Regions from separate parts of the Homo sapiens genome. Here region 1 is linked to region 2. Evidence: fine-mapped expression QTL. Tissue or cell type: blood mononuclear cells. Region 2 holds a variant in brackets; the other region holds the start of a gene. All regions are shown on one strand. Distances are from middle to middle.

Evidence for each region. PIP is the estimated chance that this variant, and not a neighbour inherited with it, causes the effect.
Region 1: it holds the start of IFT74, and the variant in region 2 is fine-mapped to the expression of IFT74 in blood mononuclear cells (TOPMed, PIP 0.97).

What each region holds. Positions count from the first base shown.
Region 1 is chr9:26,953,876-26,959,027 of GRCh38, reverse strand. It overlaps IFT74 (intraflagellar transport 74), which reads right to left and starts at 2,616. Exons shown (of 20, transcript NM_025103.4): 1 at 2,512-2,616. It overlaps IFT74-AS1 (IFT74 antisense RNA 1), which reads left to right and starts at 2,721. Exons shown (of 2, transcript NR_121605.1): 1 at 2,721-2,901; 2 at 3,013-3,248. RefSeq lists a silencer at 1,043-1,337 and enhancers at 1,934-2,668, 2,669-3,404.
Region 2 is chr9:26,985,485-26,990,636 of GRCh38, reverse strand. IFT74 (intraflagellar transport 74) reads right to left here. Exons shown (of 20, transcript NM_025103.4): 7 at 1,909-1,968; 8 at 442-503. Among named protein-coding and RNA genes, the nearest start is that of LRRC19, 18 kb to the left of the region's middle. The variant A/T (reference allele first, on the strand shown) is at 2,019.

The DNA.
Region 1 (5,152 bases), 32 kb after region 2:
CCGTTTGATTCAAATGACCCCTGCCAATATTGCCAGTGCTGTAAATGTCATCCTACTTTACTGGTGTCCACATTTATATGAAACATCTCCATGACACTTCCCTCTCTTCTGGTTCTTTTTTCTGTCTCCTTGATCTGTCCTTATATAGAGCATTTTCTAAGATACCATCCACCATCTTTTTCTTTTCTCTCTCTAAACTCCCCTTGGGCCCCCTTATCCACACTCAGGGTTTTAACAATTAATAAACTGATTCCACACAACTTCCTTATTTTAGCACTCAGCTTGCGGTGTTTATATCCAAATAATAACATCTCCACTTAGATGTCTAAATATTTCAAAATAAACATATGTAATCCAAACTCATTATCATCTGCTCAAAATTTGTCCTTCCTCTTGGTGTCACCTCCTAGTCACACAAGTAAGAAATTTAGTCCTTGACATCTTCCTCTCCCTTACTCCCATGGCTGGTCACATAGTTCTACTGAGTTTGTTTTGTTTAGTTCTACTGATTTTGTTCCTAAGTGTTTAACAGGTACTTTACTCTCTATTCCTACAGCACTGGCCAATTCAGGGCATCACTGACTCAGGTGGACTATTATACCAGCCTCTTAAGTGGTCCCCTTGCCTAACACACATTTTGCCTATTACTTTCTCTGGGAATCCTTCCATGACCAGTCCATAACTGGTCTTGGAATCTTCGTCTTCTTCAATTTCAGTGTATAGGCCTGTTCTACATGCTACCATGCATCCTGTGTATTACTTTATTCCAGAACCTATCACACCACTTGAAATGATCTGCTTAAGTATTTCTCACCCTTTATGGCAAGAGCTGAATCTTAATCATCTTTATATCCCCAAAATCTGTCTCAGTGATAAGCAAAAACTTTGTTCTCTCTTGTATCTTTTAAATTTCCTCGTACATAAAGGTATTGCCAATTACAAAAATTTACTAAATTGTTAAAAAGCAAACAAAGCGACCGGGAGCGGTGGCTCACGCCTGTAATCCCAGAACTTTGGGAGGCCGAGGCGGGTGGATCACGAGATCAGGAGATGGAGACCATCCTGGCTAACATAGTGAAACCCTATCTCTACTAAAAATACAAAAAAAAAATTATCCGGGCGTGGTGGCGGGCGTAGTCCCAGGAGGCGGAGCTTGCAGTGAGCCGAGATCGCGCCACTGCACTCCAGCCTGGGCGACTGAGCAAGACTCCGTCTCAAAAAAAAAAAAGGCAAACAAAGCGTGTGTTGGACTAAAATGATTTCTCTGTTTCTACACTCTATGTCCAGTACTACTTTTCTGACTTTTCTTAGCATTACTCGTAATCAGTCCTTGGACTGCTTCTATCCTTTCTACAGTCATGCATCTTTATAACTCCAACTATGTGTACGGCTCACTAATCAATGTCTACAGTTCTGCCCTTTCAACTGGGCACCAATTTTGAGTTTTCAATTGTTTATCTGAAATTTCCATTCAGATATCTCATTTGAATATGTTCACATCAATCTTCCTGACCCCACTAGCTCCCTGATTCTAATTCCTTGCCATTTTGAACTCTATGTACAAAGCAAAAGAATTTCAAATGGAAAAAGGAATTTCATGAAATGACTCTTTGAAAAGGAAGACGGTGTATGATCAAAATGGTTTTTCCAGAAGAAAACGAGTACAATAAACATCTCTTTCCAGTGGAAAAGATATTACTCTAGGTTTCCTGCTAACTTTGAGAAAATGTACAACATAAAAAATTTCACCCAATTTTCTTTGCCACCGTTTTACTGTGGTGAAAAAAAGCTTACCATTATATTATTACCAGTGGGATTAAGAGGCGGGCATTAGCAACAAATATACCACTAACTTCGGGGTTATTCAATCAAAGAGTCACACAATTTCCAATTATTCACACAGAGAGGCAGCCTGGCCTTTGGATCCAGAATGATTAGCGATACAAACTAGTGCTGACAAAGTTAGCGGCTGCATAATCTTGCCACCTTAATTAACCCCTCAGGATTTCATCTTCTGTAAAACAGAAGGGTGACATCTACCTTGCAGGGCTGTTGTGAAGACGATAAGTATTACATTTAAAACATCTGCTTCTAATTATTATTACTATCGTTATCCTCCCTAAGCCAACCATTCTCACACAGGTGAATAAGTGGAAAGTTGCTAACTGCCCGCACTGTGATCAACAGACAGAAATAAGTCCCTTCCACTGTAAGAGGCAGAAATGTATTGCTTTGACTAAAATCCTTCAGCCCATCGCGGTCCTTCCCTCTGCTCTGTGCTTGGCGGGTCTCCTGCGGGGGGTCGGGGAGGGGTCGGGCTGTTGGAGGAGGTCTGTTCGCAACCTTCGCTCGACTAGAATTGGTACATGCCTGGCCTGGCTACAGGCCCGACGGTAACAGTTAGCTAAGACCGAGTTTGAATTTGTTTTGTTTGGAGCGGATCAGCATCTCCAAGGCAAGAGAACAGACGTGGGAGGGAGGGAGGAAGAGATGGGACCCGGGGATTCTCACCTCCGCCGGCGCGGAAGGAGGGCAGTTGCCCGGCTCGCGGGTGCCTTAACTTCTTTCTGAGGCCCACGCTCAGTTTTCCTCGGCTCTCAGGCCTACCCACTAACTGCCGTGCGCCGCGGCGTATCCCGGCAACGGGGGCGGGATAGCGGAGGCTCCTCATCCTGAGTGACCAATCCTCCGCCTCAGCCCTTGGTTACACACGGAGCTCTCGCGAGAATTGAGGATATGTTTGTTTCTTCACCACGCTTCAGTGCTTTTTGGAAAAAGTGGAAAACAGCGGGGCGGCTGGAAGACAAACATTTTATGTGAACGTTTGGTTTTCTTGATAATCAGAGCAACCTCCGTGTGCCTTACTTGAAGTAACTCTAGCGAGTTTTGCTATGTCCCTAGGTAACCTCACGTCGGCTAACGTTGTTAACAGGTTACATTTGAAGTTAAGTGGTAGGCAGCATTGTGCAATTTTCTAAACTCCTAATTTGTGGTAGTTTTCCTTCCTATTAGGACGGCATAGCGTACACAACGCATCATGAAGTATGGATGCGATTCTGGCACCAACTGTTCCGTTCCTGCTTTCACCAGAAGCTTTGCGTCTTTAAGCTTCCTTTCATTAGAATTTGGATCCAAGTTTGTGGGGAAGACTGTGAATTCAATGGAAAGTGTCCTTTTTTTTTTTTTTTTTAATTTAAGAACTACTTCACCTTAAATCCCACTTCTCTAATAAAATAACTTTTACTGTATGTTTCCTTCCAATCTTCATTGATAACAGCTTAAATGTGATTGCATATGTATTGGGATTTTAACATTATTTTACACATTATTTCCAACTTGCCTGCCTTCGAGGAGTTAAAAATCAATACAACACAAAATGAGATAATGTTATGTGGCTGAATTCTCCCTTAGTTTGTGAAACATTTTCATGTAATTATCTCATTTGAGCTCACCCTATTTGCAGTGGCCATTTGTCATCCTTTTGGCAGAGTTTCTCCCTTACCCTGCCCCCCAACACCCTTACAGGAACTGAAAGTGACAGATACTGGCTTTCCTAGTCTTCCTTATTACTGGGACATGAGTATTATTGCTTGCTAGACTCTCCAATCTAATTTGGTGGACTCAACTCAAACTTGAATGACAACCAGAAGCAGGACTTCAGAGAGTCTGTTGAAGTAAGGGTGACAGCCGCAGTAACTACATCGTTTCCGAGACTGCAATGTTCTATCACCAGCAACCAGTGTCCAGCATCAGTGTGTTGTTGCAAGCTGCAGTGTTAGGTACTCAGAGGCTTTATTGGGAGGAGAACCTCTAGCTTGTTTCTTCAGCTTCTGGGAGAGTCTGTGAGCTGCTTAATGTCCTTTAATAAATTCATTTTCAGCTTTTATATCATTTATAGATGATTTCTGTTCCTTGCACTTAAGGACCCTGACAGATATTAACAGTTGAAATTGGCAGGACAGATACTATTATCCAAGTTTTAAAGAGATTAAATAATTTGCTTAAGCTCATTTAGGTAGTAAGTATTGATCCCTGTCCCCATTTCTTTTTCATGATGAAAAAGGAATAGAGAATAGGAATACATCTCACTTATTTGCCTCTGAGCTTCCTTAGAGTAGGCACCATATCTTATTTGACTTTGGATCATTATGTATTAGGTTCTGTTGCTTTTAAGGTTATATCAAATTGGAATTAGGTTATATCAAGTTGTAATTTGGTTAGTAATTAGGTTATGTCAAATTTTAAGTTTATTGTAAGACTACTTGTGTTTCAAGTTCCTTTCTGTCTCTAGTCCTTTTCACTGCAATTCTCTCTTCCTGGAATCTTTGTCCCTCTGCTTTTCACTGTCCAAAGTCCTGTTCATCATTCAGGTCTTAACCCAAATGTCTTTTATTAGAGAGGTCTTCTCTGCCAGTCCATACTAGATTAGTGCTCCAACTCCTTCTGGCCCCCCACCTCATTATATGTCCTCAGTGCACCCTGTACTATTCCTATCTGTTAAAAGGTAAACTTTGGCACATTAAAATTTTAAAGAGCTTATTTGAACAGACAGCAATTCATGAATTAGGCAGCTCCAAATCATAAGTGGTTTGGGGCTCCCCCAGAGGTAGTTGAAAGCTTTCAGAGAGTAAATGCAGAGCACAGCAAAGAAATTATTTGACTGGTTAAAGTTTGAGCAGTTGCCTTATTTGGACTGTTCTTGTGGGAAGTTCAAGACGATATAACTGATGACTAGTTGGCCACTTGTGATTCCGTTTTAAGTTTCAGTTTCCTCATGTAGGAACTCAGTGCATTAGAGCGACTTCAGTCTAATGGCCTCCAATTTAATTATTTTAACACTACATATCACTCATTATAACTTGCAGTTATATGTTTATTTTTGTTGTCAAAGATAACAAACCCTGACAGTAGGGACACATTTTTATCCATAATTTACTACTGCAATAGGGAAAATAGTCCAATGTGAAAGGAATTCAACCTTGATTTGTACAGCAGTGATTGGATGTTTTAAAGGGAGAATGAGGGAGTAGGGAAGGGAGCAAGTGGGTACTCAGTAGAGTCAAGGGCAATAAGGCCCAATGAAGAGGATACCACTTGGTACTGAATATGGCCAGTTACGCTTATGTAGCCCAGGGTGCACAGAAGAAAAATG
Region 2 (5,152 bases):
CAATCTATATATGACGTAGATTGCTAATATAACTATTAAATATCAATGCTAATGAAATAATGTAAATAGCTTCCTAATGAATAATGTGTCTTTCACTAGATTGGGGATGAAACACCAAAATTCAAATTAGTTAAAAGCCCAGGTTAAAACCAAAAATAGTAGATATAAAGATGTTCTTATCCATCATAAGTGTTCAGCTGCTAGCAGCATAAATCCTATTTATATAAGCTATGTAGCAATAGTCTTTATACAGAATTTAGGTATTTAATGGTAAATGAAGATAACAAGTATAAGCAACAAAATTTGTGTTGTAAATATTTTTAAATGAAAAAGGCAATGGGGAAATTGTTAAGAAAATTTACAAGGAAATAACTGGATCACAACTTAAACTACCTAATAAAGCTTACTTATGAATCTAATTTTTAAATTAGCTATACTTACGCTTGTCTTTCAGTAAATATGACATCCAAACTTTGTGTTTCTCGATCATTTTGAGCTTTAAGCTGAATAAAGTTAACACATAAGTTAGTAAGAAATAAATATTAAACCAAATTTTTTCTTTGTAGGTTATTTTGGCTAGGAACTAAATGAGAAATTACTATAATTATCCTAGTGCCACATACAAAGTTTAAGAAGAAAAATAAAGTAATTGCCTCATTTAACAAACAATATCAGATTTTTAAAAAGTCTTTTTAAGAAGCATTGTAATCTTATACCAAAAATATTCATTGTTCTTCAGTGATCTGTCAAATAATTCAATGTAAATTCAATTTATGTAAACAGCATTCAAAGAATATATTGAGTGTTCAATAAATATTTGATTAGTAATATGTTAAATTTAGAACCACCACAAGTTTTATTCCTGAACCATTCAGGATATTATCTGAGTACACCTAATTAACTCTACCTGTGCACACCCAGCCTAGAAAACAGACCCCCCATCCCAAACAACTGACAAAACACATAAGGTTTTTACTTTTTATATCTGGCATTGAAATAAGATTCTTAATTAGTGAATTCTCTTGTGTTCTAAAGCTAAAAGTAACTAAATTATCATGGTTTGAGAACCCCAAATTTAGAAGAGTCATTTTATCAATCCTATGTCTTCATAGAACAGTCTTTACTCATGTAAATAAATTATAAACTATATAAATTATAAATTGTATGTTATTTTCATCCAAATGCTTATAATCAAAATAAGCTAGCTATTAACATATTTTATTGTTTTCTACCAAACAATTAATCTAAGAACATTGAATACAAATTTGTTTTTATTTTAGAATCAGAGGTACATGTGCAGGTTTGTTGCATGGATATATTGTATAACGGTAAGGTTTGGGCTTCTAGTGAACCCATCACCCAAATAATGAACACTGTACCTGCTAGGTAATTTTTCCACCCTTATTGCCCTCCTACCATCCCCCTTTTTGGAGTCCCCAGTGTTATGTCCATGTTAAACACAGATTCTCATTTACCAATCAAAAATTAATATTTTATGTCTGGAGTCATATCTATTCATTTTTCTCCACTGGTGACAAAAACTATGTAAAGTTATCATTTGTCACATTGAGTATTCATCAACATTTGTGCTTAAACTAAGCCAGAAATACTGTAAACTAATATATATAAGGAAATGGAGATGGCACTCCCTAACTAATGTTGCACGTGACACCAGTTCAAACACAGTAGACAGTCACTAAACACCCACTTAGGAAAGCCAATCAACAGGAAGAAAATTTAAAAGAGCAACTAAGGGAGCTCAAGGAATACCTAATAGTGGTATTTACAATCAGAGTAATATTCACCTCTATAGCACTTAAGGTTTTATCAAACTATTTCTAGATATAAATGCTTTGTTTTGTAGGATATGACTTACATAGATCAATTTGCTTTTATAAATTTTCTTACCATATTGTAATCATTCATTACTTCTTCCATTTCAGTGTTGGTATTAAGTTTATCTACCAACTAAAAACAAAAATACAAACAAACAAACACCATTTTGTTAGTCTTTACAC[A/T]TGTTCTCTATAATTAATAATATAGGTATTCAGTCTTACAAATAATGAGTAGTAACTTAAGTATTAATACTTTTGAATATTTTCTATTTTAAGATAAAAACAAATATTGAGCTACCTAAGTAAGCATATATTATGCACCTGGCCAATAAACAAATCACATTTTTAACATGGATAAATGAGCAGTAATAAACAACTCTTCCTGAATATTATATCTTGTGGAGCTTTGCCTGCTCTGAAAAGATGGCTGAGCTTATAAATAAGGGTTTGGAACAGACGAGAGTTTTGGAAAGATCTATCACCCTCTCTTCCCCTGCCAACATCCCCAAGGAGAGAGGAATGTTAGTAGATTTACAAATTTACACTAGTAAGCCGGGCTCGGTGGCTCAGGCCTGTAATCCCAGCACTTTGGGAGGCTGACGCGGGCGGATCACCTGAGGTCAGGAGTTCAAGAACAGCCTGACCAACATGGAGAAACCCTGTCTCTACTAAAAATACAAAATTAGCCGGGTGTGGTGGCACATGCCTGTAATCCCAGCTACTAGAGAGACTGAGGCAGGAGAATCGCTTGAACCCGGGAAGCAGAGGTTGCGGTGAGCCGAGATGGCACCACTGCACTCCAGCCTGGGCAACAAAAGTGAAATTCCGTCTCAAAAAACAACAACAACAACAACAACAAAAAACAAATTTACACTAGTAAAAACATAAAAAGATATTCTTTATCTTCTAATAATTAAAAAAAAATCAACAGGGCTTGCACAGATGGAACAGTAGTAAGTCTACTTCAAAAAGTTAGGCAAGGATATCAGTTGTCAACATAGGATATTTACCTAGTGTCAAACACTATTACATATGTGTTAACTCAATTTTTACAATTACTGTATGAAGTAGATATGATTGTACACATTTTACAGAAAAAGAAATTTAGCAAGCGATAGAGCCAGAATGTGAACAGAAGGTCTACTAAAAGCAAACTATTTGGGTGTAAGGTATATCACATTTTTCATTTATGATATAAATAATAAGTGCTAATAAGGCCTAACATTTATTGAGTGCTAACTATATGTCAGATACACAGCTAACTGCTCTGTATCAGATATTAGCTCATTAAATCTATAAATAGCATATTTTATATGGTAGTATTTTTATATGAATATGCCTAATTTGTTCCAGCATAACTAAAACTCCCTTTCATCTCATGTCATTTCATACCTTTAAAAACTACTTTTCTCGGCCGGGCGCGGTGGCTCATGCCTGCAATCCCCACACTTTGGGAGGCTGAGGCGGGTGGATCACGAGGTCAGGAGTTTGAGATCAGCCTGGCCAACATGGTGAAACCCCTTCTCTACTAAAAATACAAATATTACCCAGGCACCTGTAATCCCAGCTACTCAGGACCGCACCTGTAATCCCAGCTGGTGGCAAGCGCCTGTAATCCCAGCTACTCAGGAGGCTGAAGCAGGATAATCACTTGAACCCAAGAGGCGGAGGTTACAGTGAGCCAAGATCACGCCACTGCACTCCGGCCTGGATGACAGAGCGAGACTCCATCTCAAGAAGAACAAAAAAACAAAAAAAAACTATTTTGCTCACATTTAAAACAGAACATCATTTACTAAAGAAAATCCCAGTGAATAATGGGCTCTACAAAATGTTTGTGATGAATTGTGTAGTCCAGGAAATTTAAGAATTATAAGAGGGCTGGGTGCAATGGCTCATGCTTATAATCCCAGCACTTTGGGAAGCTGAAGCAGGAGGATCACTTGAGCCCAGGAGTTCAAGACCATTGTGGGCAACACAGCAAGTCCCCATCTCTCCAAAAAATTTAAAAATTAGCCAGGCATGCTGGCATGCACCTGTAGTCCCAGCTACTTGGGAGGCTGATGCAGGAAGACCACTTGTGCCCAGGAGTTTGAGGCTGCAGTGAACTACAATCATGCTACTGCACTTCAGCCAGAGCAACAGAGCAAGACCCTATCTCTAAAAAAATTAAAAAATAAAAATAGTCCAGGCACAATGACTCAAGCCTGTAATCCCAGCACTTTGGGAGACCAAGGTGGGCAGATCACTTGAGCCCATGAGTTTGAGACCAGTATGGGCAACAAGGCCAAATCTCATCTCAACAAAAAATACAAAAAATTAGCCTGGTGTGATGGCATGTGCCTGTAGTCCCAGCTGCTTGGGAGGCTTAGGTGGGAGGATCAATTGAGCTCAGAAAGTCTAGGCTGCAGCGAGCCATGATTGAGCCACTGCATTCCAGCTTGGGCAACAGAGCAAGACTGTCTTGAAAAAAAAAAACAACAAAAAAACAAAAAACAAAACCCACCACCACCACCAGTAACAACAACAAAAACAAAAATAAAAAGTTATACTATAATTAGCAAAATTTTTGATAAGCACAAGGTAACACTATCAAGTAGGTATATCATAACTTATCTTATCCTAACCATTATGATAGAATGTTTATTTCTTGTAACACTATTTCTTAATAAGGGTAGTGAGATAAAAATTTGACTTTTTCATTAAATCCAGACATCACTGCTCCTAAAGCAACTAAAGAGTTAGAAAAAAGAAAATTCTGACACTAGAAATTTTCATGGGGCCAATATCACCCAAGGACTGAGCAGTTATCAATATTGCCAGGGGGACTGTTTCTTCTGAAAGTCCACAGGTAGAAGCATCTTTAGTGGAACTATATCATGTTATATACTCTATTTTGACAATGTACACAATATTTCGAGTAAAACATCAAGATGGTGGAAATCTGTATGTTTAATAATTAAATTTCAAAATTTTCAAGATGACAACACTTGATAAAAAATGTGTTTTTAAAGCAATGATCACTGATAGGACCAATACATTTTAGCCACTTTTAAAATTATTTAAATTATTATTTTAACATATTTTAGGGAGAAAAGCATGTGTGCATTTGTGTATGTGTCAGTAAACGTATTTTACAAAAAACAATGGAAGAATATATATTAATCTGTTAAGCCAAGTTATTTCTGGGGAGGGAAATGAAGCAGAAAGTAAAGGGATACTTTATTTGTTGTAATTTTTATGGTTTCATCTTTCCCAATAAGTATGTATTCATGTACTATTTGGTATTTTAAATAATAAATTAATAAATATATTTT